Linked DNA regions of Homo sapiens. The protein of the gene in region 1 interacts with the protein of each later gene in a pairwise test. Each region holds a gene or a part of one and is shown on either strand. Other genes may lie near its edges.

Region 1 (2,838 bases):
TAGCAGCGTGGGGCGGGCGGGGCAGGAGCAGTGGAGCAGACCCCAGCACTCCGACCTTTGGCTGCATGAACCTCAGCCCGTCCCACCCACCCCCTGCTGTCTGCCAGCTTGCCACAAAACTTCCCATCTGTGGATCTCCAGGCCCATGAATACCAGCCTGTCTGCGAGTTAGACGCCAGTCCTGGTGGCCCGGGAAGCCCAGATCCGCATCAGCGGTAAGTACCCCCTGACCTGAGACCCCTGCACCAGCTGGGAGGAGCAAGCAGGAGGGGCAGGAAGGCGAGGCTGTTGCCTAGAACCCAGACACTCCACAGCTAACTCTGGTGACACTTTCCACTCCCCACGCTGTGCCTCAGTTTCCCTGTCTATAAAAAGGAGCGCAGTCCTCTTCCTATAGGGAGTGTGCCTTGGTGAACCCATCTTCCTGAACAGTTGGGCCCCTCTTCTCAATTTAGGAAAAAGAAACTTCTTTTCTCCAAAGGAGCAGGAAAATTGTCTCCTCAGAGAAAGGGCCACTGGGGGTGCAGGTGGGACACAGCTGAGACACTCCCAGCTGTCCACACCTCTTGACAGGTGGCTGCCCTGTGGAGCCTCCCACCGCCATCCTTGCCCTGAGCCCAGATCCCTTGCATCGGGGCCAGGGTCTCCTAAGTATGCCCACCCCCAGGTTCTGCACCCCACACCAGCATGTGCTCACTGCCTGTGCCCCGGGAGCCCCTGCGTCGCGTGGCTGTGACTGGGGGCACGCATGGCAACGAGATGTCGGGCGTCTACCTGGCCCGGCACTGGCTGCATGCCCCCGCAGAGCTGCAGAGAGCCAGCTTCTCCGCTGTGCCTGTGCTGGCCAACCCGGCAGCCACATCCGGCTGCCGCCGCTACGTGGACCATGACCTCAACCGCACCTTCACCAGCAGCTTCCTCAAGTGAGTGCTTTTGCCGCCAGGTTGGCCCAGGCAGTTGGGCACCGAGTCCCCACCACAAAACTTCCCTCCCGCCACCAGCAGGGCCCTCCCTGCCTTCACTCCTGCTTCCCCTCTGCCTATGTGGCCCATTCCTCCACGGGACAAACCGAACATTTAGAGAAACCAAGATTGATGTCACCTCCTCCAGGAAGGCCTTCCTGACTGCAAGTTGGTTCAGGACCTCTTCTGGGGATCCCAGACCTAATTCTTCCCTCAGATTAGCCCCACAGGCCATGTTTACTTGTCGTGTGCCCTGATCACTGTTCATGCCTCCTTCCAATGAATAGTCACTGCATCCTATCTCCAGGCCAGGCTCTGGCCAGCTCAGGTGAGAGAATGGGGAATAGGACCAAGGTGTTGGCTTCAAGCTTAATGGGGAGACAGAGGAAGAACCGGGCAACCATAACCCAGGGGGCTAAAGGCAGGGCCGGAGGCTACACAAAGCAGCTAACCTGGCTGAGAGCAGTCAGGGAAGGCTTCCTGGAGGCAATGGTGTCTCAGCCAAGCCCCAAAGGCTGACTAAAAGCTAGCCAGGGGAAGAGAGGTGAGAGGGAGTTTCCACTGGAGGGCCAAGCACAGCACAGGCCTGGGGGTGAGACCAGCATGGTGCTCAGGCAGTGTGGCTGGAATGAGGGCATGAGAGGCAGGCAAGTGGGCAGGCAGGTGGGAGGGCGGGCCAGGCTGAGAGCTTGGATTTTACCGGGAAGTGCAGAGCCAAGAGGGCCACGGGCAGGGGTGGACACAGCCACAACGTCTGAAGGGAAAGCCCTCGCTCGAGCTGCTCAGAGTGGCTCCTGCAGGGCCCCTGCCCCTTTCCCCTTAAACCACTGAAGACTGACTGAGACTGTGAAGATCGGTGTCCCCCATTCCCGTCTCCACAGTTCCAGGCCCACCCCGGACGACCCATATGAGGTGACAAGAGCCCGAGAGCTGAACCAGCTGCTGGGGCCCAAGGCCTCGGGCCAGGCCTTTGACTTTGTCCTTGACCTGCACAACACCACGGCCAACATGGGCACCTGCTTAATCGCGAAGTCCTCCCACGAAGTCTTTGCCATGCACCTGTGCCGCCATCTGCAGGTGGCCCCGGCCCCAAGCACACAGCTCCCCAGAGGGGAGTGGGAGGGAGGGAGGGCAGGCGGGACAATGCTGGAACCTCCTTTGCTTAGCCCCTCTTCCCCGGGCCTAGTTTCCCCTGGGCTCCAGTCCCTGGGGTCTGCCACTCGCCAGCACTCCAGGCCCCCGGTACCCCCTCCCCTACCCTGCCAGAGGGTAGAGGGAGACCTGGCCAAGGAGGGTGGTGCCCTGTGTTTCCTCCATGCAACACCTTCCCACCTCAGTTTCCCTTCCCAAGTAGGCCTGGGCCCCTAACCTGCCTCTCTCGCCCCCAGCTGCAGTACCCCGAGCTGTCCTGCCAGGTCTTCCTGTACCAGCGGTCTGGGGAGGAGAGCTACAACCTGGACTCTGTGGCCAAAAATGGACTGGGTGGGCCGCAGCCTTCTGAGAAGTGGGCGGGGCCAGGAGGGCTGGAGGGGCGGGTCCAGTCACCAAGGGGCAGGGCCTCTTCAAGGAGTATATGGGTCCTGCACCTGCCTAACCCCTTGCTTCCTGGTCCCCAGGTCTGGAGCTGGGCCCCCAGCCACAGGGTGTGCTGCGGGCTGACATTTTCTCAAGGATGAGGACCCTGGTGGCCACAGTTCTGGACTTCATCGAACTCTTCAACCAGGGTGAGACCCCAGGGGACTTTCGGGAAACAGGTCCGGGGAAGAGCAGGTCTGGCTCAGGGGTTGGGGAGCCAGGCTCACAGGCAGGCTGGGATCTAGCCCTGACGTACCCCCACGGCCCAGTCTGTCCCCTAGCCTGGAGGGAGGGATGGGCT
Region 2 (3,500 bases), on another chromosome or scaffold:
CCAATGTAACAATAATCCATTAAACACACCTTTACTAACTGTTTTCTAGGAGTCTGATATGATGAGGAAATAGGTAAACCTTTAATAGCCAGTACTAAATTAGAGTGGCACAACTTTCACTGGGAAAAAAGATGGGTATTTTACTTTTCTGTTTTAGAAAAGTGGCTTGACAACAGTATGCTTATGTCTTAGAGTTTGAAATTCAAGTTCTTGAACATTATTAATGGCTACAATCATTCATACCCACATTGGCTGTATTCTTGATGGATCCAAAGTGATTTTCACCTCAACTCTGAATTTCATTCTCCTCTTTTGAATATAATACAACCATCTCACTAGAGGAAGCATTTCAGTCTTTTCTGATTGGAGATTCATTATTGTTTTAGATAATGTTTTCATTTGACTTATGGGTATATAAAAAATTTTATCTTAAAAATATTTCCTCTCATTTTAGCTAGCAACATTGTTTTCATGTCCACAAAAGCTGTTTTGGTGGATTTTGGCCTAAGTGTTCAAATGACCGAAGATGTCTATTTTCCTAAGGACCTCCGAGGAACAGAGGTAATTATGTTCACATGAAAAGGGTTACTATTTTATTAAGAATAAAAAGGAAAAAATGTTCTAGAATTATTGTGGGAACGAAGGACAAAGAAGGGGAAGAAACCCACTGCATTAAATCATTATTTTCCTTGGAACACATTTAATGAGCACTTGCTCTGTGTCAAGTACTAAGTTTAGCACTTGATTTTTTATTGTATTTTTTGCTATGTTATTTATAATACATAATAGTATTTGTAATATAATATACATGTTGATATATATAATATAGAACATTTGTACACAATGTCATGTCAAAATAGATCACATTGGCCAGGTGTGGTGGCTAATGCCTGTAATCCCAGTGCTTTGGGAGGCTGGGGTGGGAGGATCAATTGAGCCCAGGACTTTGAGACAAGCTTAGGCATCATAGCAAGACCCCATCTCTATAAAAAAAAACTGGTTTAGGCTGGGCACGGTGGCTCAAACCTGTCATCCCAGCACTTTGGGAGGCTGAGATGGGCGGATCACCTGAGGTCGGGAGTTTGAGACAAGCCTGACCAACATGGAGAAACCCCGTCTCTACTAAAAATACAAAATTAACCAGGCGTGGTGGCGGGCACCTGTAATCCCAGCTACTCGGGAGGCTGAGGGAGGAGAATCATCTGAACTCAGGAGGCAGAGGTTGAGGTGAGCCGAGATCGTGCCATTGCACTCCAGCCTGGGCAACAAGAGTGAAACTCCATCTCAAAAAAAAAAAAAATTAGCTCAGTGTGGTGGTACACGCCTGTAGTCTCAGCTAGTTGGGAGGCTGAGGTAGGAGGATTGCTTGAGCCCAGGAGTTCAAGGCTGCAGTGAGCCATGGGCATTCCAGCCTGGATGACAGAACGAGATGTTGCTTCAAAAAAAAAAAAAGCCCCCCAAAATAGATCATATCCACAGTTCGGCTTTATTTTGTGTGTTTTTGTTTTTGTTTTTGAGACAGAGTCTTGCTCCATCGCCCAGGCTGTAGGACAGTGGCGCATGATCTCAGCTCACTGTAATCTCCACCTCCTGGGTTCAAGCGCTTCTTAGTCTCCTGAGTAGTTGAGATTACAGGCATGTGCCACCACATCCAGCTAATTTTTTTTTTTTTTCAGTAGAGATGCAGGTTTCACTATGTTGGCCAGGCTGGTCATGAACTGTTGGCCTCAAGTGATCCTCCCACCTCAGCCTCCCAAAGTGCTGGGACTACAGGTTTGAGCCCCCGTGTCTGGCCCACAGTTCAGCTTTAATAATAATTATAGAATTAGAGTTAACTTTATAATAAGTTTAGCACTTAAAAAGCAGTATGTTATTTAATCCTTACAACAACCCAGTTGTTGCTATTGTTATTCTTATTTTACAATCAAGGAAATAAGTTTGCAGAGATTAAAATAAAGTGTCCAGAGTCACTCAGTGACAGACCCTGGACTTGAACCCAGTTCTTTCTAAGTCTAACCCTAAGGTCTAACTGCTACATAACTTTAAAAAATTATAATATTACATACATTATTAAAATATATTAGTGATATAACTAATATCACTGAGTTTTGGCTCAATGACAGTCTTAACTATGGTCATTAATATTTATGAGGACTCTAAAGGCCTCTCTTTGAGCCTAGGAATTCTATAATAAACCTCAAGTAGTGAGCATAAATGTATCTTATTTAAAGATGTAAAACAGCACTCATGTTTAACTCATCTGTGAAGCAAAAAACGACCCAGAAAAGCCTTTCTTTCCTGACTCTAAATGAGATTCTGAAAAATGCGTTCGCGGGCTTCCAAGTAATGTATTTAACATTCACATCATTAGGCTGACTGGGTGATTCAATTAGCCAGTGTCCACTGGGCATCTGCTATGTGGCAGGTTCTTGTGAGCACCAACGAGGAAGCATGACACAAGGCAGTGAGGAGCAAGCCTTAGTGGTACTCCAGCGATCCTCACTCTTTGGTGGGAGGACTTACTTTAAATTACCTGAATTATTAAAAGAGCAACCGTTTAGGGATGGGCGTGGTGTTCTCACACCTGTAATCCCAACCGTTCGAAAGGCCAAGGAGGTGGGGGTGGTTTGCTTGAGCCTGGGGGTTCGAGACCAGCCTGAGCAATAGAGTCAGACCTCATCTCTTTTGAAAAAAAAAAAGAAAAAAAGAAGGAAGGGAGGGAGGGAGAGAGAGAAGGAAGGAAGGAAGGAAGGAAGGAAGGAAGGAAGGAAGGAGAAAGAAAAAGGAAGGAAGGAAAGAAAAAGAAGGAAAGAAAGAAAGAAAGCATGCACAACAGTTTAGTTCACAGTTGATTGTGATGGGCACAAGGTTGGATGCAAGCAGGAAGGTAAATGGGTGTAAAAGCTGCCTCCTTGGCCCCTCACCACTACCGGGGGAAGCTGCACTGCCTGAGCCACTCAGCCCCATGCCCTTCTCTTTGCTGGAAGTGCCCATAGGAAATAGAGAGAGGGTCTTTGGCTGCACCTCTATGTCAGGATTACCAGGTCAGTCTTGGTGTTCAATCAGATGACAACCCTTAGTCTAGTCTAGCTAGTATACGTGTTGCACTGAACTGGATTGCAGCCACAAAAAAATTGTCTTCCTTTCAAACCAGATTCTTCCAGCCTGGGCAACATAGTGAGACCCCATCGCTACAAAAAGTAAACAAACAAACAAACAAAAACTTTACTTTTTGTAAAAATGGCATGGTGGTGCATGTCTGTAGTCCCAGCTACTCAAGAGACTGAGGTGGGAGGATTGCTTGAGCCCAGGATGAGGCTGCAGTGAGCTGTGATTATGCCACTGCACCCATAGCCTGGAAAATAGAACAAGACCTTGTCCTAAAAAAAAAAAAAACGCCAAGATTCTGTAAGTCCTTTCTCAACTCTCTCAAAGCCAGCACTCTCCCGGGCAGCAGAAGAAATCCTTGCTTTTGTGAATATTACTGAAGTTATTATTGA

What was found. The genes of interacting proteins can lie anywhere in the genome.
Region 2: the proteins of ACY3 (region 1) and MAP3K8 interact in a two-hybrid assay, tested with the Homo sapiens proteins (one large-scale study listed by BioGRID and IntAct).

The regions. Positions count from the first base shown.
Region 1 is NC_000011.10:67,644,893-67,647,730, reverse strand, and holds part of ACY3 (N-acyl-aromatic-L-amino acid amidohydrolase (carboxylate-forming)), read left to right. Parts: intron 1-107; exon of another isoform or gene 108-141; 5' UTR 142-215; intron 216-667; 5' UTR 668-687; coding exon 688-923; intron 924-1,269; coding exon of another isoform or gene 1,270-1,290; intron 1,291-1,843; coding exon 1,844-2,039; intron 2,040-2,350; coding exon 2,351-2,444; intron 2,445-2,578; coding exon 2,579-2,686; intron 2,687-2,838. UniProt on the Homo sapiens protein: Plays an important role in deacetylating mercapturic acids in kidney proximal tubules. Also acts on N-acetyl-aromatic amino acids.
Region 2 is NC_000010.11:30,451,184-30,454,683, forward strand, and holds part of MAP3K8 (mitogen-activated protein kinase kinase kinase 8), read left to right. Parts: intron 1-454; coding exon 455-561; intron 562-3,500.